4 linked regions of the Homo sapiens genome follow. The protein of the gene in region 4 interacts with the protein of the main gene of each other region in a biochemical or structural test. Each region holds a gene or a part of one and is shown on either strand. Other genes may lie near its edges.

Evidence for each region.
Region 1: of the proteins of FEZ1 (region 4) and UBE4B, one has a biochemical effect on the other in vitro, tested with the Homo sapiens proteins (one study listed by BioGRID).
Region 2: the proteins of FEZ1 (region 4) and SAP30L form a complex in vitro, tested with the Homo sapiens proteins (one study listed by BioGRID).
Region 3: the proteins of FEZ1 (region 4) and NEK1 form a complex in vitro, tested with the Homo sapiens proteins (one study listed by BioGRID).

The regions. Positions count from the first base shown.
Region 1 is NC_000001.11:10,035,937-10,042,963, reverse strand, and holds part of UBE4B (ubiquitin conjugation factor E4 B), read right to left. Parts: intron 1-7,027. UniProt on the Homo sapiens protein: Ubiquitin-protein ligase that probably functions as an E3 ligase in conjunction with specific E1 and E2 ligases. May also function as an E4 ligase mediating the assembly of polyubiquitin chains on substrates ubiquitinated by another E3 ubiquitin ligase.
Region 2 is NC_000005.10:154,441,856-154,449,020, reverse strand, and holds the start of SAP30L (histone deacetylase complex subunit SAP30L), read right to left. Parts: upstream 3,025-7,165; 5' UTR 2,417-3,024; coding exon 2,216-2,416; intron 1-2,215.
Region 3 is NC_000004.12:169,392,584-169,399,610, forward strand, and holds the end of NEK1 (serine/threonine-protein kinase Nek1), read right to left. Parts: intron 1,941-7,027; coding exon 1,927-1,940; 3' UTR 226-1,926; downstream 1-225. UniProt on the Homo sapiens protein: Phosphorylates serines and threonines, but also appears to possess tyrosine kinase activity. Involved in DNA damage checkpoint control and for proper DNA damage repair.
Region 4 is NC_000011.10:125,458,248-125,465,274, forward strand, and holds part of FEZ1 (fasciculation and elongation protein zeta-1), read right to left. Parts: intron 5,324-7,027; coding exon 5,237-5,323; intron 2,420-5,236; coding exon 2,251-2,419; intron 1-2,250. UniProt on the Homo sapiens protein: May be involved in axonal outgrowth as component of the network of molecules that regulate cellular morphology and axon guidance machinery.

The sequences.
Region 1 (7,027 bases), on a different chromosome or scaffold from region 4:
GAAGGCTCTAACCATGCTTGGCATCCTTGCTATTCCTGGAACAGCTCAAGAATGAGTTTACCTCAAGGCCTTCTGAACCTGCTGTTCCCTTTACCTGGGAACATTCTTCCCCGAGCAAGCTCCCAGCCATCCCTGAAATTCTTTTCAAGACCACCTCCTCAAAGTGCACACGTTACACATATCTGATTGTTCTCTGTACCTGTAGGCCACAGAAATACTCTGTAACAATACTCCATCCCTAAGTATTTCTCTTCACAGCACTTCTCATCAAATGACACCTTATGTGAACATGTTTGTTTGTTTGTTTCTTTGCTTTTGAGACACAGTCTCACTCTGTCGCCCAGGCTAGAGTGCAGTGGTGCAATCTCAGCTCACTGTAACCCCTGCCTCCCGGGTTCAAGCTATTCTCCTGCCTCAGCCTCCTGAGTTGCTAGGATTACAGGCGTGCACCACCACGCCCGGCTAATTTTTGTATTTTTAGTAGAGACAGGGTTTCACCATGTTGGTCAGGCTGGTCTCGAACTCCTGACCTCGTGATCCACCCGCCTCAGCATCCCAAAGTGCTGGGATTACAGGCGTGAGCCACCACGCCCGGCCATGCTTGTTTTTTATCCCTCTCCTCCCACTAGGACGAAGCTCCATACAGCAACGTTTGTCTGTTATCAGGGATGCAGCTAGTCAACTGTAAGCGCTGTTGAATGAACCGTTTACAGGAAGACATTTCCACTAGATACTACAAGTGCCGTGTGAGAAAATGCACTTTGCACAGAGAAGTCTTTCTGCCTTCTTTCCCTACAAGAGCTTGGGGCTACTTGATGAGCTCCACTCTCAGCAATAACAAACGGGAATGAAAGTCCACTGGAGGGCTGGGCCTGGCGGCGGGCGCCTGTAATCCCAGATACTCGAGGGGCTGACCCAGGAGAATCGCTTGAATTCAGGAGTCAGAGGTTGTAGTGAGCCAAGATAGCACCACTGCACTCCAGCATCATGCCTGTAATCCCACAACTTTGGGAGGCTGAGGTGGGTGGATCATTTGAGGTCAGGAGTTTGAGACCAGCCTGGCCAACATGGTGAAACCCCTCTACTAAAAATACAAAAATTAGCCGGGCAGTAGTGGCATGTGCCTGTAACCCCAGCTACTCGGGAGGCTGAGGCAGGAGAATCACTTGAACTCGGGAGGCGGAGGTTGCAGTGAGCAGAGATCGTGCCACTGCACTCCAGCATGGGGACACAGCGAGGCTCTGTCTTAAAAAACAAACAAACAAACAAAAAGTCCACTGGGGCTTCCACTTCCTATCTCAGAAGGGACCGTAAGAATGCTATAAATGTGGCCGGGCACAGTCGTTCACGCTTGTAATCCCAGCACTTTGGAAGGCCGAGGCGGGGGGATCGCCTGAGGTCAGAAGTTCGAGACCAGCCTGGCCAACTTGGAGAAACCCCATCTCTACTAAAAATACAAAAATTAGCTGGGCATGCTGGCGGGAGCCTGTAATCAAAGCTACTTGGGAGGCTTAGGCAGGAGAATTGCTTGAACCCAGGAGGCAGAGGTTGCAGTGAGCCGAGATCAGGCCATTGCACTCAAGCCTGAGTGACGAGAGCGAAACTCCATCAAAAAAAAAAAAAAAAAAGAATGCCAAAAAGGTTACAGTTGGCTGAGGTTAAGTCTTGTTTTAGAGGTAGTAAAGCGATAGAAAACTCTGGAGTCAGAACCTGGATTAGAGTCCAGGTTCTACCACTTACTAGTTGTGTGCCTTTCAATAAATTAATTTCTATTAGCCTCCATTTTCTTATCTGTAAAACAGGGGATAAGGATGCCAACCTTGTGAAGCAAGTTTATATCCTTATTATCATTCTCTGTCTCTTGTCTACAATGAACAAAAGGAGAGGAAAGGGCCTGGCAGGATACATCCCACTGTCCTCCCAGGCTTAAGAAAGAGTCCTGGTTATAAAGTGAATGGTAGCAACTATCTTCTGAGGAAAAAAGGGACCTCAGGTCCTCAGGCCTGTTACAAGGGAAGAAATGGTCAAAGAGGTGGGGATGTTAGGCTGGGTGCGGTGGCTCACGCCGGTAATCCCAGCACTTTGGGAGGCTGAGGCAGGCAGATCACCTAAGGTCAAGAGTTTGAGACCCGCCAAGCCAACATGGAGAAATCCCGTCTCTAATAAAAATACAAAAAAATTAGCCAGGCATGGTGGTACATGCTTGTAATCCCAGCTACTCGGGAGGCTGAGGCAGGAGAATCGCTTGAACCTGGGAGGCAGAGGTTGCAGCGAGCTGAGATCGCGCCATTGCACTCCAGCCTGGGCAACAAGAGCGAAACTCCATCTCAAAAAAAAAAAAAGAAAAAAGAAGAAAGAAATGGAGATGTTAGAGCACCAAGGCCAGAGTGGGGGTCTACATGTGGACTCATCTTTTTGGTGGTCCAAAATTAAACTTGCAATCTCAGCACTCTGGGAGGCTGAGGTGGGCAGATCACTTGAGCCCAGGAGTTTGAGACCAGCCTGGGCAACATGGCAAGACCCTGTCTCTACAAAATATACAAAAATTAGCCGGAGGCCTGGCGTGGTAGCTGACACCTGTAATCCCAGCACTTTGGGAGGCCATGGCAGGCGGATCACCAAGGTCTGGAGTTCAAGACCAGCCTGGCCAATATGGTGAAACACCGTCTCTACTAAAAATTAAAAAATTAGCTGGGCATGGCTGGCAGCTACTTGGAAGGCTGAGGCAGGAGAATCACTTGAACCCAGGGGGCAGAGGTTGCAGTGAGCTGAGGTTGCGCCACTGCACTCCAGCCTGGGCGACAGAGGGAGACCCTGTCTCAAAAGACGAAAAAAAAAAAAAGAAACATGTGCTTTCTCCAAAATCTGCTGCTTCTCTGGAATTCCTTATTCAACCCTTATCTATCCTTCTCCATAGCTAGAAACCAAGGTGTCATTTCTCCATCTCTCCTCCCCTCCCCTCCTTCACAGCTAACTGATCATCAAAACTGGGTTAATCACAGTCCTTGGTATTTTTGGTGTCTGTCTGCTCCCCTCCATTCCCACAGGCAATGCCTTAGTTCCCTTGGACTCCACTGCCTCGCTCCTATACAGCAACAACAGCCTCCTAATATGTCTTGCAGTCTGCAGCCACCTTCTCCCAAACTACCCTTTACTCCCTTGCCACCCATCTTTCTAATCTCTTAAAATCCCTAAAAGGCATTTTACAGAGAAAGTTCAAACTCAGCCACGTGCAGTGGCTCACGCCTGTAATCCCAGCACTTTGGCAGGCAGAGGCAGGTGGGCCACTTGAGGTCAGGAGTTTGAAACCAGCCTAGTCAACATGGTAAAACCCCATCTTTACTAAAAATACAAAAAAAAAAAAAAATCAGCAGGGCATGGTGGCATGCACCTGTAATCCCAGCTACTTGGGAGGCTGAGGCAGGAGAATCACTTGAACCCGGGAACCAGAGGCTGCAGTGAGCCGAGATCATGCCACTTCACTCCAGCCTGGGCAACAGAGAGAGATTCTGTCCCAAAAAACAACAACAAAAAGAAAGTTCAAACTCCTAAACGTTTCTGACAGCCCTCCAAGATCAGGTACCTGCCACACACCCGAGGTAAAACCCACCTCTCCAGTCACACTACTTGCTGCTGTTTCTTGAGCTCCCCAATTTCGAGCCAGTTCCCAGGGCAACTGCTACTCAGCGTTAAGTATCACTTTTTCTTGAAAGTCTTCACTAAGACCCTGCCTCTCCCGGGGTCCCTTCTCATGTTTCTTAAGTGAGTTGTGCATACCTCCACCATAGCACCTGGCACTATTCTATAACTGTTGGATTCCTATCTATCTCCTCTACTCAAATTTAATTATAATTGCTTTTTTGTTTGTTTTTCTGTGTGTGTGTTTTTTTGTTTGTTTGTTTTTTTGATGGAGTCTTGCTCTGCCTCCCAGGCTAGAGTACAGTGGCGCAATCTCGGCTCACTGCAACCTCTGTCTCCTGAGTTTAAGCAATTCTCCTACTTCAGCCTCCTGAGTAGCTGGGATTACAGGTGCGTACCATCACACCCAGCAAATTTTTGTATTTTTAGTAGAGACGGGGTTTCACGTGATCCGCCTGCCTCGACCTCCCGAAGTGCTGGGATTACAGGCGTGAGCCACCGCGCCCGGCCCCAACTCCCAAATTTTTAACGCGACAGGCATTTAAAAAAAAAATTGGGAGTGGGAGGACCAGTACCAAAAGCCCTGATCACATCATGAATGCATTCATGCAAAACAGCACTTCTACAGAAAAACTATGTATATCAAAACAGAGTGGGTCAGTGTTACGTAGGATGTTGATACAAAAGCTGTGGTGAATTTATGTCAGTTGTTGAGCAGTAGAATAAAGAGGACTTTCGAGTCCAGAGCACTGGGTTTGAATTCCAACCCCATCACTTCTAAGCCAGGTCGCTATGGACAAGTTACTTAACCTGAATCCCAGTTTCCTGACTTGTAAAATTAGGAAAACAGTACCTGCTTGATTATAATGTTTTCTCTAATGAGAAACAGCTATCAAGTGCCTGGCACAGAAGAGGCTCCTAAGGCTGTTGTTTAATGTCAATTTTCTTCCACTTACAGAACCTTGCTAAAAAGTCCAAGGTCACATATTCTGCATTTGGAAAGGAATACTTAAAACACTTTCTAAATCTTTTTTTTTTTTTTTTGAGATGGAGTTTCACTCTTGTTGCCCAGGCTGGAGTGTAGTGGTGTGATCTCGGCCCACTGCAACCTCCGCCTCCCGGGTTCAAGCAATTCTCCTGCCTCAGCCTCCTGAGTACCTCGGATCACAGGCATGTGCCACCACGCCCAGCTAATTTTGTATTTTTAGTAGAGATGGGGTTTCTCCATGTTGGACAGGCTGGTCTTGAACTCCCGAACTCAGGTGATCCACCCACCTCGGCCTCCCAAAGCGCTGGGATTACAGGCGTGGGCCACTGCGCCCGGCCAACACTTTCTAAAATCTTGACCACACCCGGAATCCCAGCCAACCATCTTGCAGATGAACTAGGTCATAAAGAAGAGTTAGGAGAGAAAAATCACTTATGCAATCTCATTACCATTGTCGAAAAACAGTTTAAAACACCTACTTGGCTGGGCATGGTGGCTCATGCCTGTAATCTCAGCACTTTGGGAGGCCAAGGCGGGTGGATCACTTGAGCCCAGGAGTTTGAGACCAGCCTGGGCAACATGGTGAAACCCTGTCTCTAGAAAAAAATACAAAAATTGGCCAGGTGTGGTGGCATGAGCCTGTAGTCTCAGCTTGGGAGGCTGAGGTGGGAGGATCACTTGAGCCCAGGAGGCAGAGGTTGCAGTGAGCCAAGATCATGCCATTGCATTCCAGACTGGGCGATAGAGCCAGACCCTATCTCAAAAATAAACACACCACCTACTCACAGCACCACCTTGAGATACGAAAAACAACACATGAGTAGATTATAGAATTAATATAATGTAAATAATGATGCCTTGGAATGTAGGTTCCTGAAGAGAATGAACTTAGTCATGGTTCTGCAATGAACCTATAGGCAGTGAACTATAGGGCAATGAACTCACTGTAATACACTATATAAATAACAAACAACAGTGAAGTTAAAGTACTCTACTTAAAAGCACAAGACTACCGGGCACAGTGGCTCATGCCTGTAATCCCAGCACTTTGGGAGGCCGAGGCAGGCAGATCACCTGAGGTCAGGAGTTCAAGACCAGCCTGACCAACATGGAGAAACCCCGTCGCTACTAAAAATACAAAATTAGCCGGGTATGGTGGCGCATGCCTGTAATTCCAGCTACTTGGGAGGCTGACGCAGGAAAATCGCTTGAACCCGGGAGGCAGAGGTTGCAATGAGCCAAGATCGCGCCATTGCACTCCAGCCTGGGCAACAAGAGCGAAACTCTGTCTCACAAAAAAATTTAAAAAGCACAAGAATTCTAGGTGATCTATGACAGGGACCAAAAAGTGCACATAATTTAAAAGTTCCTAAAGCTACCAGTCTGGTTATACCAGCCTTTTTCACGGACTGTATAATCATACATTTTCATTTTGTTAAAATATGAAACTCTGCCTTACCTAATTTCCTAAATTAGATTAAAAGATCACCGCCTTGCCTGTTTTAACCCTGAAATATAAGCTTGAAGTTTCAATAATATAAGTGTATTATTTTGTAATCAAATCAATGTCACCTACCATATCTGACACAAGTTTTCAACTACAGAGTAACAATACAAAGGCAAAAGCTTTGGAAATGTCTCATGAGAACTGCTTACCTAACCTCAAAAATTTTTAATTGAATTAAAAAGAAAAACTTCAAAGATATTTTTCCCAAAATAACTATTTGTCTGGCTCCCACTTTGGGAGGCTGAAGTGGGAGGATCGCTTGAGGTCAGGAGTTTGAGACCATCCTGGGAAACATGGCAAGACCCCCGTCTCTACAAAAAAAAAAAAGATTTTTTAAATTAAAAACAAACGAATATTATTTGTTCTAGGTTCTGCTGAGAGTAAAATTAACAGTTATTGAACCAGCCCTTTGTGTTCTGGACAACTAATTTGTTGAAGATAATTTTACATTGATCCTGTATTAGTGAATTTAATTTTTTTCATTTATTTTAATATTCTGTTGACCTTGAAAAAAGTTTATTCTATTTCTTCCACAAAGGTTACATGTGTTCCTCATATGGTCACAAAAAAAAGTTACACCTTCCTCAAGGACTGATGAAAGTGAAGAGACACATTTTAGATTATACAATATCTTCACTGGTCTGTAATGCCTCACTGGTTTGAAAAGAATTTTTTGGTGAAAACTCAAGTATGCAAAAGCCTCTAAACCAAGGACTATTAACAGATCATCAAAAAAAAAAAAAAAAAGTAATTTATAGGAGTAAAGGACTACTAAAAAACTACCTCGGCCGGGCGCGGTGGCTCACACCTGTAATCCCAGCACTTTGGAAGGCCGAGGCGGGCGGATCACGAGGTCAGGAGATTGAGACCATCCTGGGCTAACACGGTGAAAC
Region 2 (7,165 bases), on a different chromosome or scaffold from region 4:
TTGGGGCAGGAGGGTGGTAGCAAAGGCTCTAGTTTTTTTTTTTCCTTCACTTTCTGCAATAGCTAAAAATTCTTGTAACATACCAGTTACCTGGAATTGAATTCCTGCCCAAGCCTGTGAGAAAGAAATAGAATCCCTTTCAGAAATAATGACTCCACAACACCACCTTAAAACAAATTTTGAGTGATTCCACCTGGAAACCTTACTACCTCAGAAGTATTACATTTTGGGAACACTAATGCTAGGCTCAGGCTGCCCTTCTTCTAGACAGTGTGTGTGAAATGATCAGCATAGCTCAACACAGGTTTTCCAGTACAGTCAATGGGTAAATAAAAGGAGTCCCAGTTGCAGCAGCAAAATCATTCAGATGGGAAGGCATCCAGTGATCTAAAAGGACTGGAAGATTCTTTTAAGGACTGGAAATTATTATTATAAGCTGCTCAAGTAAAGCAGCTTCTAACAACCTACACGGAAGGTAGGCAGTGTTTCTAAGTGGATGAATTCATTGCCATAAGCATTTCACCTCAACGTGTGACCTAAGGAGGGATCACCTTGGTGTCTAGACCCTTGTTTGTTCTCAGATATTTCCATTCATGCATTCATTGATAGAGATTTGTAGTAAGAAAGCCATTAACTCTCTCCCAACCACTTAAAAATAGCACCTGTCCATGCAAGAGCTGCAACTGTATTATAATGATTAACTTAAAAATGGGGGTAGGAGGGAAGAGTCTGAAGAAAGGACAGGGGCTGGGCGCAGTGGCTCACGCCTGTAATCCCAGAACTTTGGGAGGCCTAGGCGGGTGGATCATTTGAGGTCAGGAGTTCAAGACCAGCCTGTCCAACATGGCGAAACCCTATCTCCATTAAAAATACAAAAATCAGCCAGGCATGGCGGCAAACGCCTGTAATCCCAGCTATTCAGGAGGCTGAGGCAGGAGAATCGCTTCAACCCGGGAGGCGGAGGTTGCAGTGAGTCGAGATCTTGCCACTGCACTCCAGCCTGGGTGACAGAGTGAGACTCCGTCTCAAAAAAAAAAAAAAAAAAAAAAAAGAAAAAGAAAAAAAAAAGAAAAGAAAAAGGACAGGGGAGATTTTTTATTTATTAGAGACTTAATGAAGACTTATGTATAGGGCTTGGAAGTAAATTAGATAATATCTTTAAGAAATTAACCAGCCTCTTAGGTGCTGTGTGTACCTGACACCCTCACTTCCTATCTCTGGGCCTGTTTCAACCCTAAAATCAGAGGGGAAACGTGCACTCCCTTTCAGTTTAACAAGCAGTCTCTGATTTCCTCCAACTGTGGAGAAATTCTGATTCTAGAAGAGAATGGATGTTAACCACCTAAGCTCTTAGCTAGTCTACCTGAATATTAAATATCCCCTTAACTCATTTCCAATTCCTAATCATGAAGCAATCACTTAAGGCTTGTAGCAACAGATGTCAAACTAAAAAGTTCTTAATTGGTTGACAATAGGCACAGCTTCAGAATTGTTAACTAGAAGTGGTGAAGTCACACGGGAGGAGTTTCCTATAATAAGCCACAAAGAGCAGGGCAATCCGATTTAAATTTAAATATCCACCCCCTTATTTCAAAAGAAACTACCACTAAGAAAATTGATTTCTTTTCTTCCCCCCTCCAGTCACATCGACTGCAAGAGCCATTTCTCAAGACCTGGCCTTGGCCTTATTTCTGCCACATCCTAGAAAAACCCATTCCCACAGCTGCCTGCGAAGCAGCTAGCTCGGTGACCCTCTGCTGATACCGAGGATGCGGGAGCCAGGGAAGTAACTGCCACCTTTCTCTGTCTGAAGGAATAACAGGGTTCCTAGAAGGAGAGAGAAGTTGGAAAAGAGCCGGGTATCTTCATCACTCCCCGCTCCGATTCTTGCTCCTTCAAGGGCCAACAAAACTAACCCACCTCTCCCTGCTCTAAAGTCTAAACCAATAAAACAAGTTGGAAACTGCTGTCCAATCTTTCCAGGCAGCAGGAGTCCTGAAGCCCCCGCCCCCATCCTCCCGGATCTGGGTAGAATCACAGTCAGAGCATGTCAGCGCTGGAGCGGCCTTTGAAATGCGGAGTCCAACTCAGTTCTGCAGAGCCGGGGCGGCGAGGCCCACGGCGGGGAGTGCCCGGGGAGTCCCGACTGGAGCCCAGGGCAGCGGACGGAGAGCTGGGGGCGCCGGGGCCCAGACGCGAGCGGGGGCGGACTCACGCTCTTGTCGATGTCCAGCTTGAGTTTCTTCTGCGAGATGCTCTTCTGGACCCTCTTGCTGAAGGAGGCGTTGCCCGCGGGCCGGACGCAGCGCTCGCCGTCCTCGATGAGGCAGCAGCTCTGGCCGTAGCCCGGGGCGGCGGCAGCTGGGGCGGCGGGGGGCCCTTCGCGGCTGTCCTCCTCCGTGCTGAAGCCGTTCATCTCCCCGCCCCGGGCCGGTCCCTCTGGGGGAGGGTCCCCGGTAGGCCACTCCGCGGCCGCGCTTGCCGCGGGGCAGGTCGCTGAGACCCCCGCAGCCGAGGGTCCCAGAGTCCGTCTCCAGCCCGGGCGCTGCCCTGCCCCGCGTCCGAGAGGCCCGGCTCCCTCGGCCCCCGGCCCTCCGCCTCCGGAAGCCCCCTTCCTCCCGGCTCGAGGCCCCGGGGTCGGCTCCCGCGGCTCGCAGGGCCCCGCCGGGGGTCACCCGGAGGAGCCTTCTGCCGGGGGCCCAGAACCGTAACCCTGCAGCGGGGGTGTCCGGGAGGGCGTCCCAGGAAACAGCCGCTCCCCAAGGACTCCGGGCCTGGGTTGCCAGGGGGTTTCGAAGGCCCCTGCCGGCTCCCGCCTTCTTTCGGCAGCGGGGCAAACTCGCTGCCGGGCAGCTCCCCCGGGGTGGCGCGGCCTCCTCGCGCGGGGCCCGGCCTCGAACCCGCGGCACCCGGGCCCCGCGGCTCGTCCGGCCCACTCCACCCCTGCAGCCACTCGGCTGCGCCCCGAGTCCCGCGGCAGCCCCTGGGCCGCCCGGCCGCCGCCCGCCGAACGCTCCGCACCACAACAGTTCGCTCCCCCCGCCCTTCGCGGGACAGCGGAAGTCCCGCCTTCACGCGACCATTGGTCTCATTTGCTCTCTGGGCGGGGCTGCCGCCGCCGCTGGCGCGTCCCATTGGGCGTCGCCGCCGCCAGTCTCCGGCGCCAGGCTACTTCCTGGACTCTGCTGGGATGGGTTCAAAGTAGAGAAAGTGGAAGAGGAAAGAGTTACCCCAGCGAGAACCGGGAACCGGGCTGCAGACTCTCCGGCCCGGGGGAGGGATGGTGAGCAGGGGCCTGGCTGGACCGAGGGCCAGACTCCAGGAACAGAGGAACACATTCGGGGACAGACAGTAGAGACGCGGACGGGGACGCTGAGGGACAGACTTGGAGGAGGGGCATATGAGGGGACCTAAAGAGGATAGAGGTGCTATCAGGAGAGGGGCGGACTAATAAAATGAAAGGGCCAGGGCCAGAGGACTCGCGGATCCGTGGGAGGAAGGGTGGGTGAAATAGGACGGAAAGCCAGTCATGGCGGGAAAGACAGAGGGACAACCCCATACAGATACGTGGAAAGACATGCGGAGGAGGTGATGGGGGGATCTTGCAAGGCAGTCGCAATATTGGGGGTAGCCGATACCTTCCAGAGTGTGGAGAGTGGGACTGGCTTGGACGGCGCGGAAAGAAAAGGAGAGGGGGAAAGGAGACCCCGAGGGGTTTGGGCGACCCCTCCACTGGGAAGAATGGGAAGTCCGAATGAGGTCTGGAGGGTGGACTAGGTGAGCCGCGGGCAAGAGAAAGGGCTTCAGGGGAGATGAAGTGAAGGCTGGGAGTGGGGCCCAGGGGCCAATCTCGGAATCTAGATGGGGAAGGGCTGCGGTGTCTTGGGCTCTCCCTGGAGCTCCAAGCTGTAGTTCTATTGCTTTGAGTCCCCGGGTCTACCGGCGAAGCGACTGCGCCCTGCCAAGACCCTGCGCTTGGTTTCGGCGCCCAGGGCACCACCTCCCCTCCAGGAGGGGCCGTAGGATATGCTCTGGTCCAGCACTTCAGTCATGCCACTCTCCAACTGCGCAGCATGGGGACTGATGAGGTCCGAAAGGCGATGGGACCAGCCCAGGGTCGTGTAATTATGTAGGGCTGGGCAGCGTTTTATGGGCAGGGAAGAGGGGAGGCTGTGTTAGGTGATAGGTAAGCAAGTGTTAGTACTAGAGGGCATAGAAGGAGCTTCGGGTTTGTGTCCTGTTGTAAAAGGGAAAGCTACCAGTTTCCATGTTTAGAAGCAGGTGGCTGGTGATCTTAAGTTTTGCTCAGTGGCCATAAATGCATTTGTAGCATCTGAACTGGTAATTTCACACGTGGGACAGCCATCGTCGGAAATAGGCCTATCAGAGATAATATGAAGTACAGTGATGTTCATTATGGAATTATTTATAATAGGAAAAATAAAATAGAACCTCAGAGTTCCAAAAGGGAAGTGGTTAAGTAAACTACCTAAAATCTTCAGAAAGAGATTGTGCAGTTAGCATTTGAGGTAGTTTCAACATCAATGTAAACATTTTCTATAGAGAATAATTCACCATTAATTCTTAAATAAAGAGCTGATGAGGAGTTGGAGAAATGCTTTTTTTATGATAAGTAAAAAAATTCAGGATATGAAATTGCATGGAGGATACGATGTCTGTACATCTATGTTTAAAGAAAAAAGAAAACTATTGGTATAAAAAATGCACCAAAGTACTAACAGTGATTATTTCTGGGTAGCAGGAATATGGCTGATATTTTTCTCCTTTTGTTTAACCTTTGCATTTTCTTTAATAAGCATTATTTTTGTTTTTACAGTAGAAAAAATAGAATAAAAATTAATGGAAAAAAGGCACAGATTAATAGGAGTCTTCCCTCAGAGTTCATATATTCTGTTCAAAAGTAAATTGTTGTTGAACTCATTATGTATACCAAGTATAGGGTTGGCTATAGGAGGAGGATGAAACATAACCCTTGCCCTAAAAGAATATCTCCTATCTGGGGTGTTCAGACATATATGTAGAAAACACTTGGGTATCTGTACCAGGCACTGTGTGATGTTGGGTCCAAAGTCAGTTGGTATGGATGAAACCTCCATGTTCCCCATATTTTTCTAAACAGCATTTGTATTCAATGCTAGGCTATTGCGGTACACAACTTCTTCTGCACCAACTTGCCCTGGTCTAAGGGGATCTAGGACCTTTTCTTAGGTGCTCTGTCTCAGTCCTTGAGGTAGTGGCTACTTATATCTGCTATTCTTGTATTATTTAGCATTCTTTTTTCTTTTTACTAGGCAGTTCCTTATAACTGTAGGGGACTACAGTCCCCTATTATAATTAATACATGTTTATATTATTATTTTCCTGTTCAAATTACTGTAAGGTTACTCTTTCCTGATTACACCCAGCCTGATACGCCCAGCCAGCCTCTGTGTGTGTGTGTGTGTGTGGTGGTGGTGGTGGGGGAGTTCATGCTTGTAACTGTTCTTTTTTTTTCTTTTTTCTTTTTTCTTTTGAGACAGAGTTTCACTCTGGTTGCCCAGGCTGGAGTGCAATGGCGCGATCTCGGCTCACCGCAACCTCTGCCTCCCGGATTCAAGCGATTCTCCTGCTTCAGCCTCCCGAGTAGCTGGGATTACAGGCATGTACCACTGCTCCCGGCTAATCTTGTATTTTTAGTAGAGATGGGGTTTCTCCATGTTGGTCCGGCTGGTCTCGGACTCCCAACCTCAGGTGATCTGCCCGCCTCGGCCTCCCAAAGTGCTGGGATTACGGGTGTGAGCCACCGCTCCCAGCCATTCTTTATGTATAATTTTGTAGTCTTTATTCAAGGCATACTTTATCATAATCTTTCCCCATATTGCTATGTAGTTTTCACAGTTGCCATTTTTTATGTAGTACAGTGCAGTTTCTGTAGTACAGTACACTGTGGTGCTAAAGACAGTTGGCTTTGCTGTCAGAACTGGGTTCAGATCTGGACTCCACCCATGACTTGTTATAACATGTTAGCAATTATTTCACTTCTTGAGTCTGATGAAATAGGTGGTGACAAATTCTTAACACAGTGCCTAGAACATCATAAGTGGTTAATAAATGTCAGCTATCATGATTCCTACCGTAGTTACATTTGCCCCCCCAGAAGTTGGATATCTTTTTTGTGTGGTTCTGTATAATTATTTTTGAACATAAAACTTTTTATTATTTAGGATTATTATTTTTTCTGAGTGCCAGAGATGGAATTGTGGTCAAAGACTACAAAGTTTTCCAAGGTCTAAGGGCCAGGCTCACTGACCCTTTTTTTCTTTCCTGTCTTTTCTGCCCCTGCCCTCCCCACCTTCATTCCTTCCATCCAGTCAGGCCCCAGTTGAGAAGTTATCCCCCAACACGCCTTAAAGAATCAGAGTTGGATACCTTGGCCAAGCAGTCACAGTCCTACAAAAGCTCTTTGCTCTCCTCTTTCTCTCCTCTTTTCCCTTTTTGGGGAATGTGGCATATGGCTCTGGGAGTGATTTCCAATGACTGCCCTTCTTTGGGAACAGGTGGACACTTAGGTGTCCAGTGACTGGGTTTCTAATCCTTGAGTGGCCCCTGATTGTCTAATAGTGAATACTTGCTGGGTTAAGCCTGTGGCTCAAACTGTACTGGTCAGTTTCTCTCCAGCAAATCTGCTGGTTGGAACTGACAGGTGGTTGGTGGGAGTGGTTAGAGCAGAGGCACTAATGGTGGGTCCTGCCTCCTGTGTTCCCCAGGGCCTGGTAGTTGAGCTTGCCCTTGGGTTCTGTAAGGTACTCATAGATATGTTGGCATGAACCAAAAGTATCTGAGACAGGTCTCAATTTAGAAGGTTTATATTGCCAAGGCTAAGGACGTGCACGTGACACAGCCTCAGGAGGTCCTGACTACATGTGCCCAAGGTGGTTGGGATACAGCTTGCTTTTATACATTTTAGGGAGACATGAGACATCAGTCAATATGTACAAGATGTACATTGGTTCCATCTGGAAAGGCAGGACAACTTGATGCTGGGGCTTCCAGGTCATAGATAGATAAGAGACAAATGGTTGCATTCTTTTGAGTCTTTGCTCAGCGTTTCACTGAATATACAATTTACATGTGGGGAAGGGGTGAGGTGGGTGGTAGAGGAATA
Region 3 (7,027 bases), on a different chromosome or scaffold from region 4:
GGCCAGGCTGGTCTTGAACTCCTGACCTCATGATTCACCTGCCTCGGCCTCCCAAATTCCTATCAAATTTATTCTTTTTGGTTCTCTGGGGGAGATAAGAATGTGCAACTAATAACAGTGTAAGACCTAGAAACTGCTCTGACCCTGACCCTTTACACAAGTGACTTAATTTCATGTTCAATATCCTTGCATGTTAAATGCAGAAAAGACAAAGTTATCCTGATAGCCCATTTAATGCTAACATTTATTAATCTACAGATGCTTCCACATGTCAATTCCAACACTTATAATAGACCTTACTGAAAAATAGCCCTTTTCCTCACTGGCATAATCTTTCCATAACAACACTCCAGAGTCACACACTGCTAATCGACTGGAGATGGCACAAATCTTATTGATCATCCTTATTCCTGCACATATATAACATCTTTTGAAATATGGCTAAAACAATTTTTTTCTACCATATTATACCCTTTTCTAATAGTTGTAATAGTTTAAGAATTAATACACAACCTCCCCAAAATCATGCCCATCTTTCAGGATTGTAAAGAATTAAAATATTGAATTCATTTTCTTCCATTATGAAGAAAGAAATCATCAGGTACAAAACCAACAAAAGTATTATCAGCTTGATGTAAAAGCCTTCTATTGAGAAAAGTAAAATAATAAATAAAAGACAATTGATATACTTCAGGTAGATAATAAAAATTTAATAGCAATATCATAAAATAAACACACATATTAAAAAATCAAGTATTTAGTTTCGGATATTAGAAATAATATACATAATAAATTCAACATACTGATAGTGCTGCAAGATAAGATTTTATTTTTCAAATTACATATTATGCCAACCAGCCTGCTTTGGACTCAGAGGTTCAAAAACTTTGCTTTTATTACGAAGAACATCTGGACTGTAGACACCTCTAACGAAACCAGGTTATACTTGGCATATTGTGATTGAAGCTGTGTGATCAACATCTTAATGACCTAACTAAATCCTCTCATAACAGAAAGAAGTTCAACAGGCAAACATTTCCCTCCCTAGGATCCTAGTTACCAAAACTGTCACAGTGTCAAAATAAAAATAATTATTTCCTCCTTTTTAACATCTTATTGTCCTTGAAGCTTATGTATGGAGGAAGTTAAAAACCAAAAGAGCAACTTTAAGCTATATGCTAAGTCAGTGTTAAATCCACAGACTAATTTTTCGATATAGTATTCCTGGTTCTGGTCCTTAAAGAGAAATAAAGGCATTAAACCAACTTTTTATATGTCAAGAAATATAATTTTGCTATTCTTTCATAATCAAATCTTTCAATGATTTCTAAGACTGTTTCTACAGCCTGTGTGCTAGTTCAGGAGACACACTGATTGTAAAAGGACTTGAGAATATAAACTTTAAGGCTAAAAATTTCATCTTCAAAATGTATAGATGTAAACAGAGCCCTTGACAAGGTGATTTAATGTAGAACTGCTGGCCAGAATGAAAACAAGTACTAGACAGAAAAAAGATCATGCTTAAAGACTCCATTGAAAAACCACAGACAGGTCCTTCATGACATAGGTAATTCCTTCAACCTAAAGACATTTGCTGAAACTCAAAGTTACCCTATTGCATAGTAAATCTTCAAAACCATTAAGTCAGGTTCTGGGTCAATGTTTCCTATGCTTTGGTTGGATGATTTAATAAAGTATATATTTTATGAGATTTAACCATGGAATTCAATGAACAAAATAGATAAAATATTAGAATCTTCACTGAAAAATGGCATGTTTCTCCATCTTTTTCATGCAATAAGAAAGTCCATCTTAAATCTGATTTTTTAAATAAATAATTGCTGTATTTCCCACTGAAGCTTGTTATTCTGATAAGCCAAATTCAAATGCTTTCATATAGTTGAGGATTAAAAAACATTTTGAGGATTATTCATCATTATCTGTAGAAAAAAGAAAAAAATTGACTTCATTTCAAATCAAGCTGTATCTACTTTAAAAAAAACCCATTCTTGTTCATGCTAAAGGAGAAGAGCTTTAATGTAGTTTTAAACATACTTTTAAAATTATTTTATCACACATTCCTTGTAAAATATTCAGACAATACAATGAAGAATAAAATGGGAAGCAAAAATCATCTGTAAGTGAAAGACAACCAATGTTAACTTTATATAAATCCTCCCACAATGCTTTCCTATGCATACACAAATATCTTTTAAAAATTACACTAAAATGCAGTTTTGAAACATAGGTTTTCCACTGAAAACACCCTAGTGAATGGAAAGGTGGATACATAAGTGATAATGTAAGATTAGAAAATGCTAATGTTAGAATCTAGGTGGTGGGTGCATGGGTGATCACTGTAAAGTTCTTTCAGATTTTCAATATGATAAAAATTTGACAATAAAATGTTAAAGAATAAATCATGGATATATTCTATGTTGACTTCAATGTCTGCAGAGTATTCTGTTTAATGGATATGACATAACTAACCATTACTATTTATAGACATTTTTGTTATTTTCAATTTTTTTAATTCTAAAGATTATAATCAAGTGAATTAAACAGACTGGTTAACTTAATCTTATATGCAAGCACTATCTTCCACATTCTAGCAAAAGTGATCTTTCATTAAAATCCAAGGGTCATGTCAAATCACTGCACTGCTTAAAACATTTGTTAGCTCCCTGCTGCCTCAAAATGGAATCCACGCTCCTTAACGTGGATTACAAAGCCCTTCATGATCTGGCCTTTTAAATATTTCTCATCTTACCAAATTTCATTCCCCACCTTCCTTAACTGCCCCTATAATTTATGCTTTAGGAACACTGAATTGCTTATAGTTTCCCTACTACATTTTGCATACTTCCATGTATGAGTACTTATTTGCATTAAATTCCCATTTGTCTTTCAGAATCCAACTTTGATGTCCTCTCCCCTAGGAAGACCTATCCTGTCACCATCAATGTAGTTGGATCATTACTTTATAACTTACATACATTTTATTGCTTCCAAGGTAACACTTATCACTGGACTATAATTTACTTACTTTTCAAATAATCAGGAAAGTAATGAACACACATATCCATAATATGTAGAATTAACAAAAGCTAACTTTTGGCCATAGTGGTTTGGATTATTTAAGTAAAACCATATTACAGATGCAGAGTACCCTTTCTCAATCTTACTGCCTTCCTTTCTTCCCCAGGGGCATTTTCAGTACTCTGAAATTGATGTGTATTCTTCCCGCTCATGGTTTTTGCTTTTATTTTTATTACGTACATGCACATCTAAATAAAATTGTTTAGAAACACTACATAAATGGTGTAATATTCTACTTATTCAACTCATCATGTTTGTGGGGCTTATCCATATTGACAGTCGGAATTTAATTCATTCATTTTAGCCGATGTATACAATTTCATTACATAAACGCAGCCCAATATTCCACCTAAAATGAATATGAAGAGAAGGTATGTGTCTCTTTCTTAAGAGTCTATAATGGCCAGGCATAGTGGCTCATGCCTGTAATCCCAGCACTTTGGGAGACCGAGGCAGACAGATCACCTGAGGTCAGGAGTTTGAGACCAGCCTGGCCAACATGGTGAAACCCTGTCTCTACTAAAAATACAAAAATTAGCTGGGTGTGGTGGCACATGCCTGTAATGCCAGCTACTTGGGAGGGTGAGACAGGAGAATTGCTTGAACCTGGGAGGCAGAGGTTGCAGTGAGCCGAGATCATGTCACTGTACTCCAGCCTGGGCGACAGAGCAAGACTCCATCTCAAAAAAAAAAAAAAAAAAAAAAAAAAAAAAAGAAGAATCTATAAACTTGGGCCGCTAATGCTAATACTCAATGTGAGAACATGGTAGCCTCTGCCAGGTTGCCACTGGCCACAGCTGTTATACTCCTCTCCTTGTGGAAGAATTTATTAGGAATACTATCAAATCGCTTACACATTTTATTAGCTCTATTTGACTTCTGACTCTGGATAGTATCTAGCTATGGAAAAAAAAGCATTAACTTTATCAACGGCTGAAGATATTGACGCTTACCAAACCTGCACCATAACAGTATCAGGAGAGTTAAATAGCTGAGGCTGTCTTTTCAGGACTTATATAATTTCCAGTGAAATAAAACAGAAATGTGTTTTTGACAATCTTCTTTTTAACTTGTATCTTAATGACTTGATGTCACTTTCGGGTGAGCGAGATAAAATTTTGCTTACCCCTTCCCTTCTTTACTCTCCCTTTTCCCCAACACAGAAAATAAAAGTGTGTAAGTACCATATGTAGATGACATGGCTTTACCATCTCCTAGATGTGGCCTAAAAGATAGCTGTCTGGACAACTATCTCTAAGACAGGTAGGCTGGGTGCGGTGGGTCACACCTGTAATCCTAACACTTTGGGAAGCTGAGGTGGGAGGACAGCTTCAGGCCAGGAGTTTGAGATCAACATGGCGAAATGCCATCTCTGCCAAAAAAATACAAAAATGAGTCAGGCATGGTAGCTCACGCCAGTAGTACCAGTTACTCAGGAGGCTGAAGTGGGAGGACTGCTTGAGCCCAGGAGGCGGAGGTTGCAGTGAGTTGAGATCATGCCACTGCACTCCAACCTGGGTGACAGAGCAAGGCCCTGTCTCCATAGAAAAAAAAAAATCCCAACAAAAAACTCCCCAAATCAAAAAGAACAGCTATATATGGGCTCTACTGACTTCCAATAAGAAGGAGTGCAAAACGGTTATTCTGAATCAATGAATATGAAATCTATATCTAGTCATTTCATTTAACTCTCATGATTAACAATACAAAACAGCAAGTCATCCACATAATTCAATATCCATTTTATAACCAGTTTCTTTAGTAGCTATAGTAGCAAGTTACAATATTTTATGGGCTGTACTCAATTTTTTTTTAAGCTACACCTGCTGTAATGGTATGTACTAAGAGTTTTAGAAAAGATTGCCAGGGTAGGCATCTTCAATTGCTTTACATTTTTTCTAGGGTGAAGGAATTACTGTCAGGCTTTATGATACAGAACTCTGGGGTTCTCTTTCCCTTTCCATTTGTGTACTAGAGAAAATCTGATATTGCTTCCTGAGTGGTGTATTAACCTAGCCTGATTCTTGGTCCTTTGCAGGGGAAATGGCCTTCTGTGTAGGCTTATATCCTTTTGAAGCCACTCAGTTGTCAAAAGAGGGTGTCAATTCTACCTTGTGAATAAGTTGATTGTTACAGCTCTCCACTTAAGGGGCAAGGCAAACTAAAAGCTCTCCAGATACTTGTTGAGCAAAACTGAACCCCAAGCACATTGTTGCTGATTACTTATGAAAAGCTCTATTGAAACAATACTTAAGGAGAACCGCCTGGAGGTGGAATAGTCTGAATATGAATAGAATTGGTTTGATACACTCTACAGAATTACTGAAATGGAATCATCCTCTGGCTTCGTGCCATTAACTTACAGCATGACATATGAGAAACAGCCTCATGAAATCTAAATATTGTAAAAATTACTGAGGATACTTTTCATTCCATTATAGCACTGTTTTGTAAAATGAAGTCCAAGGTCTCAATAAAATAAGAAATCCACAAGTACCAGAAAATGTTTACCTTTTATATTTTCATTTTGATAAAATTTTTTAATATTTAGAAAAATACAACATGTTTTACAGTAATAATTCACAACTAACAGAAATTTTCTACCACTAAGACTTGAGTTTTTTTTTTTTTACTGGGGTTTATAGACCCTTGGATTCTCATGCCTGAAAAAAATACTTTTTGCTCCTTAAAGGGATCCACATGTTATTCAAGTTTGAGGAACACTGTATGATAGTGCCCTCTTTTTAAAGATCATGGGAAAATTGTTCCTTTGGTTTCAATACCAAAAATAGCTGTCCTCTGAGCAACTAAAATGTTTTGTCTCATGAATACTGTGACTCATGTAATTAATTAGGTTTTCTGCTTTGTGAGAAAGACCAGCACCAAATTTGTTTCCTGTTTTTAGAAAATGTGGAAACCTTTTGAACATGAAGTTTGTATTCTTCATTCCTGGCTTCATGTTATACTGCTTGTGCTCATTTGTCCAATTTGTTGACTTCCCCAAACTTTTTTTTAAAACTTAATTTTCTCTCTTACTATATACATATATATATTTCAATGCAATCTTAGACTTTTTTGTATGAATATGCAAACACATTTTGTATGGAATACAAATACATTTTATAAACATTTTTATTGCTAAAATTAAGCATCAACATTTAAAACCCTCAATTTTAGTCTATGAATTTAACATTTAAAGTAATAAAATTAATGTTTGGGCAAATAATCTAGAAATAAATTCTTGTTCAAAATTTTACATATTGCTTTTTGTGTCTACAAGTTTTGCCAGGTGCAGTGGCTCACACCTGTAATCCCAGCACTTTGGGAGGCCAAGGAGGGGTGAATCATTTGAGGTCAGGAGTTCGAGGCCAGCCTGGCCAACATGGTGAGACCCCATCTCTACTAAAAATACAAAAATTGGCCAGGCATGGTAGCACCTGTAGGCCAAGCTACTCAGGAGGCTGAGGCAGGAGAATCACTTGAACCCAGGAGGCAGAGGTTGCAGTGAGCTGAGACTGTGCCACTGCACTCTAGCCTGGACAACAGAGCAAGACTCCATCTCACACACACAAAAAACGTTTAATACCACATCCTTGATAAGAACTATTCTAGGGCCAGGCGCAGTGGCTCACATTTGTAATCCCAGCACTTTGGGAGGCTGAGGTGTGTGGATCATCTGAGATCAGGAGTTCAAGACCAGCCTGGCCAACATGGTGAAACCCTGTCTCTACTAAAAATACAAAAAGTAGTCAGGTGTGGTGGCGCACGCCTATAATCCCAGCTATTTGGGAGGCTGAGGCAGGAGAATCACTTGAGCCCAGGGGGTGGAGGTTGCAATGAGCCGAGATCACGACACTGCACTCCAGCCTGGGCAATAAGACTCTGTCTCAAAAAAAACAAAAAAAAATGAATTATTCTAAGTTATAAT
Region 4 (7,027 bases):
CTGTTTCTAAGTTCCCATCTCCCCATGGGTGGATCAACTCCTAGGATGGGGCCCCTTCTGCAGCGTGGGCATTTGATACCCTACGGCTGGTGAATTGTTCTGCCTTTGCTGTGTTACACTTTTTCATTTCATGCTTCATCCAGCCGTTTCTTGTGCACAGTCATAATTACTATAAACCTGTGTCAGAGAGTTAAGAGGATGGCCTCTGGAGTTAACCTACCTGGCTTCAAATGTTAGCTTCACCCCTTATGGCTTCTGCATGGACTAAGCACAAATACAAATTTTAAATGAGAGGCTTGATTCTCCCCGTTGAAAATAAGGGAAGAGACTTTTCCTCTCCCCCACCTCCCTTTTCTTTCAGAATTTCTTCTACCTATCCTTTTCAATCTCTCAAAGATTTAGATTAAATCTTTAAAATAAACATATGTTACATTTACATTAAATTATTGTCATGGCTAAAATAAGCCTCTTGTCATTCTTATAATTCAGGAGGCTTTCTTCAAGGGCCTGGAGGTTACTGCTTTGAAATATAATCATCGGGCCGGGCGCAGTGGGTCATGCCTGTAATCCCAGCACTTTGGGAGGCCGAGGCAGTCGGATCACGAGGTCAAGAGTTCGAGACCACCTTGGCCAACATGTGAAACCTCATCTCTACTAAGAATATAAAAATTAGCCAGGCGTAGTGGTGCATGCCTGTAATCCCAGCTACTCGGGAGGATGAGGCAGGAGAACTGCTTGAACCTGGGAGGCGGAGGTTGCAGTGAGCAGAGATCATGCCACTGCACTCCAGCCTGGGCAACAGAGCAAGACTCTGTCTCAAAAAAAAGAAGGAAAGAAAGAAAAGAAAAAGAAACATAATCATCTCTCATTGTTCTGAGCAGAGGGGCCTAACTCCCTTCCGACTCCAAATTGCAAAACCTACTCAATGTAATGGGTTCCATTCATCCACTTAGCTACACAAGAGTGAGACTGCTTTCTGTCTTTGCAGTCTCTTCAGAGAGTTGTCTGTGATGTGGCTCCCATCCTGGTTTAGTGCTTATTCAATAATAAAATAGTTTTCTAGGCCGGGCATGGTGGCTCACACCTGTAATCCCAGCACTTTGGGAGACCGAGGCAGGCGGATAACCTGAGGTCAGGAGTTTGAGAACAGCCTGGCCAACGTGGAGAAACCCCATCTCTACTAAAAACACAAAAAGTAGCTGGGCATGGTGATGCATGCCTGTAATCCCGGCTACTCAGGGGGCTGAGGCAGGAGAATCGCGTGAAGCTGGGAGGCAGAGGCTGCAGTGAGCCAAGATCATGCCACTGCACTCTAGCCTGGGCGACAGAGCGAGATTCTATCTCTAAAAAATAAATAAATAAATAAAAATAGTAACAAAATAGTTTTCTTTCTCACCTGTCTTTGTGGAGAGGTTTTCTGAACAGGAAGGAAATCTCATTTCTAATCATATTTCCCTAACAGTGGCCTTGGACAAGTCATGTAACCTCTGAAAGACTCGGTTAGCTTGATCCAAATGGGGTTGGTGTGAAGATGAAATGAGATTAGGCATAGGAAGTCTTAGAATAAGGCCAGGCGCAGTGGCTCACACTTGTAATCCCAGCACTTTGGGAGGCTGAGGCAGGCAGATCACTTGAGGCCAGGAGTTTGAGACCAGCCTTGCCAACATGGCGAAACCTCGTCTCTACAAAAATACACAAATTAGCAGGGCGTGGTGGCACGTGCCTGTAGTCCCAACTACTCAGGAGGCTGAGGCTTGAGAATCACTTCAACCTGGGAGGTGGAGGTTGCAGTGAGCTAAGACCATGCCGCTACACTCCAGCCTGGGTGACAGACAGAGAGAGACTCTGTCTCAAAAAAAAAAGAAAGAAAGTCTTAGAATAAGGTCTGGCACATAGAAAGCACTTCAGAAATATGAGCTGTTACTATTACCTTTTTTATTCATTGATTTTATGGTAGCATCATTCATTGCTTTTATATAGTAGTTCAGATTTCTTCTGCTTATTCTGCCTTAGTCTTGTTCTTTGGTTAGTTTTAACATTTAAATTTTGCTCGACTACCTTGTTCTTTTCTCAAAAATGCAAACTTCTCTCCTGATGCCGAGTAAGAAAGGTATTGCTGACCACCTAGATCTGCAAGGCTCTGCTCTGAGGCAGTCAGGGTTCTATTAGCCATGTACAAAGCACACAGCCCAGAGCCTGGCCCCGAGCAGGTGCTTCCTCCTCGGCCAGCCCAGCGCCCAGGGCCCTCACCTTCATAGGACCAGTTGTTGTTGAAGGTCTGTGTCAATGCCTGCATCTCCTGCAGGAGGACCGAGTCTGCCTGGGAGGAAGTTTCTCCTCCATCCTCTTCTTCCAGAACCTCCTCTTCTTCCTCAGGGTCTGGGGAGTTCTGCATCATTTCCTCAATCTCCTCAATTACCTGAAGAAGGTACACGAGAGAGTGCTAACTCTGTTCTCTGCTAGAGGGGCATTCTGGCTTGAATTTTGATCAGTTAAGGATGTTCCTAATTAGCTATCTGAAAATTTCTAAAGCAATATTGTTTTTACATAAATACTGAATAATAAAAATAGTTCCAACCAAAGGCTTGCATACACTCTTTCTTTAATGTAAGGCACTCTTTAATGTAAAACCTCTTCCAAGAGCTCCTTTTAGATAAATGACTTATTGGAAATAAGCTGCTCTTTCAGGAAGCAAGGCAGAGCTGCCTGGAAGGGAACATTTACTTCAATGTGCTGAGCTATTTCTAAGTGGGAAAATATTTCATTCACCCAACTTTAACACAAAACCCAGTCCATTAATTGACATAATACACGTGACTGTAAAAAATAGCGTGCTCCTAGAACAACACAAAATGGGGAGGAAAACAACTATTTCTCCAGAATTCACCTAGACAGGAACTGAAGCTGCCCAGCAACAAATGAAAATAGAGATAATGAAATAATAGAAGGATAGGTGGAGTCTAGAGAGCAGCAAATAGATAAGAACCCCAGCTCTAATCTAGACTATTGACAGGAGCCAGCTCCCAGAAGTGGAGGGAAAATTAGATATCTGCCAAAAGGAACAAAAGTGAATTACTAGCTGGGCATGGTGTCTCATGCCTGTAATCCCAGCACTTTGGGAAGCCGAGGCAGGTGGATCACTTGAGCTCAGGAGTTCAAGACCAGCCTGAGCAACATGGCGAAACCCCATCTCTGCAAAAAGCAGAAAAATTAGCCAGTTGTGGTGACGTGTGTCTGTAGTCCATGTTACTTGGGAGGTTGAGGTGGGAGGATGGCTTGAGCCCAAGAGGTAGAGGTTGCAGTGAACCGAGACTGGGCCACTGGACTCCAGCCTGGGCAATAGAGCCAGATCCTGTTTCAACAACAACAACAAAAAAAAGAGTGACTTACTTTGTACATTAATTATTTACAAATAAAGAAGACTGCTGCTGAAAGCAGGTCTTTAGATGAGTTTTGTCCCAACCTTCACCTTTGTCTGTTCTCCATGGATGGACTAAAGTCCCCGAGGCCAGCATTGTACTCTTTGAGGTGGTTTCTTCACAGTGGGCTGGACCAAAGGTAAGGGGTTTCAGGGTCTCCTCCTTTAGAATAATTTCCATTCTTATTCCCAAACCTTTTCACCTCTACTCACAAACTTAGGAAATACCCAGTCTTTGACTACTGAAAGCCATTTTACAGAATGCAACCAAATGACACAAGTCCCTGTCAGGGTCTTATGGCTGAATGTCCTTTTCTCTAAGAGGAGTTATAATTGAGTTCATATCATTGAATTGTAGATCCTCCTACAAGTCACAAGAATAGCTATTAGCCCCTATTTTTAAAAATCTGGTTCTCTTCAGTCTCCTAATCCTCACGTGTTTCAATTCCCACCTTTCTATCACAGATATGAAAAAGCACCATTGCTGCTAAAAAAGCACTTTCTGGCACCGAAGGCTGCCAGTGGAGCTTTGCAGAAAGACTTTGTGGAAACTTATGTAGTGTTTAGCTCAAAATAAGCACCCATAAATATTTGTTGACTAAAACATTAAATAAGGAATCCAGAAACTGAACATTATCCTCTCTAAGTAATAAATTATTAAAGCTATGATGATCTCAATTGAATGCGAAGCACTCTATCTTTTTTCACAAAGTCGAAGTGGCTCTAAGACTCCTTTCGGAAGGCCCAAAATTTTGAGTGTTCTATGAAATGTAAGAAAATATCCATCACACAAAAGCCTCATCTGTCACTTCTCTTTTTGGGAAAACAGGTATTTGGGACCCTTGTTTGAGTGTCTTGACTCCGAGTACAACGAATTTCAATAAGAAGGCTTAGCAGGATTGTAGCTACTAAACACTATGCCTGTCTCTGGCTCCTATCAGAGACTGACCCCAACTATCCCAAGTGTCAAGAATGACATTCATGTTCACTGCAGGTGGGCAACCTGAGGCAGAAAGAGAGATGAAATCCCTTATCAAAAATACTCTGAGTTGGACAGTCACCGTGGCTCATGCCTGTAATCCCAGCACTTTGGGAGGCCAAGGCGGGTGGACTGCTTGAGTCCAGGAGTTTGAGACCAGCCTGGGCAGCATGGTGAAACCTCATCTCCACTAAAAGTACAGAAAATTAGCTGGGCATAGTGATGCATGCCTGTAGTCCCAGCTACTTAGGGGCCTGAGGCGGGAGGATCGCTTGAGCCAAGGAGGTTGAGGCTATAGTGAACCCTGATTTTGCCACTGCACTCTGGCCTGGGTGACAAAGTGAGACCCTGTCTCAAAATGAAAAAAAAAAAAGGTCAGGCACAGTGGCTCATGCCTATAATCCCAGCACTTTGGGAGGTTGAGGTGGGCAGATCACTTGAGGTTAGGAGTTTGAGACCAGCCTGGCCAACATGGTGAAATCACATCTCTACCAAAAAATTTTTTATAAGAATTAGCCAGGCATGGTGGTGCATGCCTGTAGTCCCAGCTACTCGGGAGGCTGAGGCAGGAAAGTCACTTGAATCCGGGAGGCAGAGGTTGCAATGAGCCAAGATCACGCCACTGCACTCCAGCCTGGGCAACAGAGCAAGACTCTGTCTCAAAAGTATATATATATAAAGAAAAAAAAGAAACAAAAAATACTCTGAGTCATGAGCACAGGCACCACATGACCACATATCTTTCTTCTGCCTTAAATGGATGTGGCAAGTGTGTTCTCTTGGACTTTTTCTCCATCAAAAGAACAAAAGGTCCCGATAACCTGGAGAGATACTTATACCTGATCTGCTGTGAGCAGAGGCTCCTCGTTGATACCGGAATCATTTTCACTCTTCTCATTGAACTCTTCCTCTTCTTTCTCATGGATCTGGAGAGGAGGTGGGGAGATGGAATTCTGGGTGACCATCAGCAGAAGTGGGATTGCCTCTAGTCTCGAGAATGGATGATACTGACTGGGAGGCCACTCCAGCCAGCTGCTGTCTAAACAGTGGAGCTGAAGAGGTGTCCAGAGTTTCATCCAATTCCAAACATATCTTTGCCCCATCACTAACTCCAGCATGCCAGAAATCCAGCATGCAGCACTGAATCCAACTTGGCAGGAAAAGACGACAGGGGAATGGCCAGCACCATTCTGACTCAAAGGGGACAGCACCGTTTTTTAACCCACAGACAGGTCATCCTGGGGTGAACAAGGCGCCTTCTCCAGGTAAGTGACACTGCAGCCAACTGCAGCAAAGGTGCCCTGATTTTGTTAAGGAGTTCCAACCTGGGGGGTTGTTTCCAGATTTCGTCTTACTAGGCATTTTAAGGAATAGGTTGTTCTAGTCCAAATAATGATGACTTTCAGAATTTGATGAAATGCCATCCTGTTACTGGAATCCAGGCATGATGTCATAGCTGATGGCAGATGTAAGAAATCTGCATGGGACATGCCACTGAATAACCTGACCACATGAACTAAACAACAACAAAACTACAAAAGAGAACCCCATTTATCTCATTTGCCCTGTGTCTCTATAATTCCATAATCCCAAGTAAGATCCTCAAAGTTCACAGCCATCAAAATTCTAGATGTTTAAATCTAACAAGCTATTCAAAGCATATCTGGCTTAACTGACCATATCCCAAACTGCCATAGTCTGGCATTTACATTCAAGTCCCACAGAAAAGTTAATCACTAAACACCTAACAAGCTGTATGTCTAGAAGTCTGATTTGAACGTCATACAAGGAGGAGGCAGGAGGTGTCTCTAGGAAATCTCTCTGCTGAGTCACCTCTCATCCAGGAATGAATCCTCCTTGCGCTCCAGTAGCTGGCACACCGATTGGCCCCTTCCCTGGGGCTTGTATTCTGCCTTTTCTAACAGGAAACAGCCCAGCTCCAATCCAAGCAATAATGTCAGAGGTAGTCTATCCTCAGAAACTTCTCCCGTCTTCTGTGAGCTTTGCCTTGGCAGACATCCCTAACAGAGCACATCACCTTTTATCTCCATTTGCTTAAAACCAGGACTATGTCATTAAAAAAGAAAAAAAAAATTAAGCAAATATATCTCAAATGCCATCCGCACTCAACCTAGATATGGGGTAGGACAGGGAGGTAATGGAATCATCTGAAGGGCCCGGGTACCAGATGGTGACATCTATTTCCGCTGTCAAACCCATATGCTCCTCTCTCTGCCAAGTCCACCACCTGCGATAGCCTCGTGGTTTCCACCGCTCCCCACTATGCAGAACAAAACTCCTGGAGCTACGCTTTGTTCACAACTACACTCATATGGAAGAACTTTCTTCAGGCCAGAAAATCCTGCAGTAGAAGTTAGCCCAAAATTAAGAGAACGAAGATACATTTTTTCCTCCAGACAAAAATTAGGGGAGAAAAAGGAAGAAATGTATCAATATGAACCCAGCCCAAGTTAGTGTGAGCCCAAGTTAGGCTCATCCTGGGAAACAGGGTTATTTTTCATAAGCATCTAACAGCAACTGTTAGTCTATAACCAGGATTTGGCAGGGGGTAGGGGGTGGTGGGCACTAAGTCTATATAAAAATGGCATGTTTACCTTTTCTGAAATGTG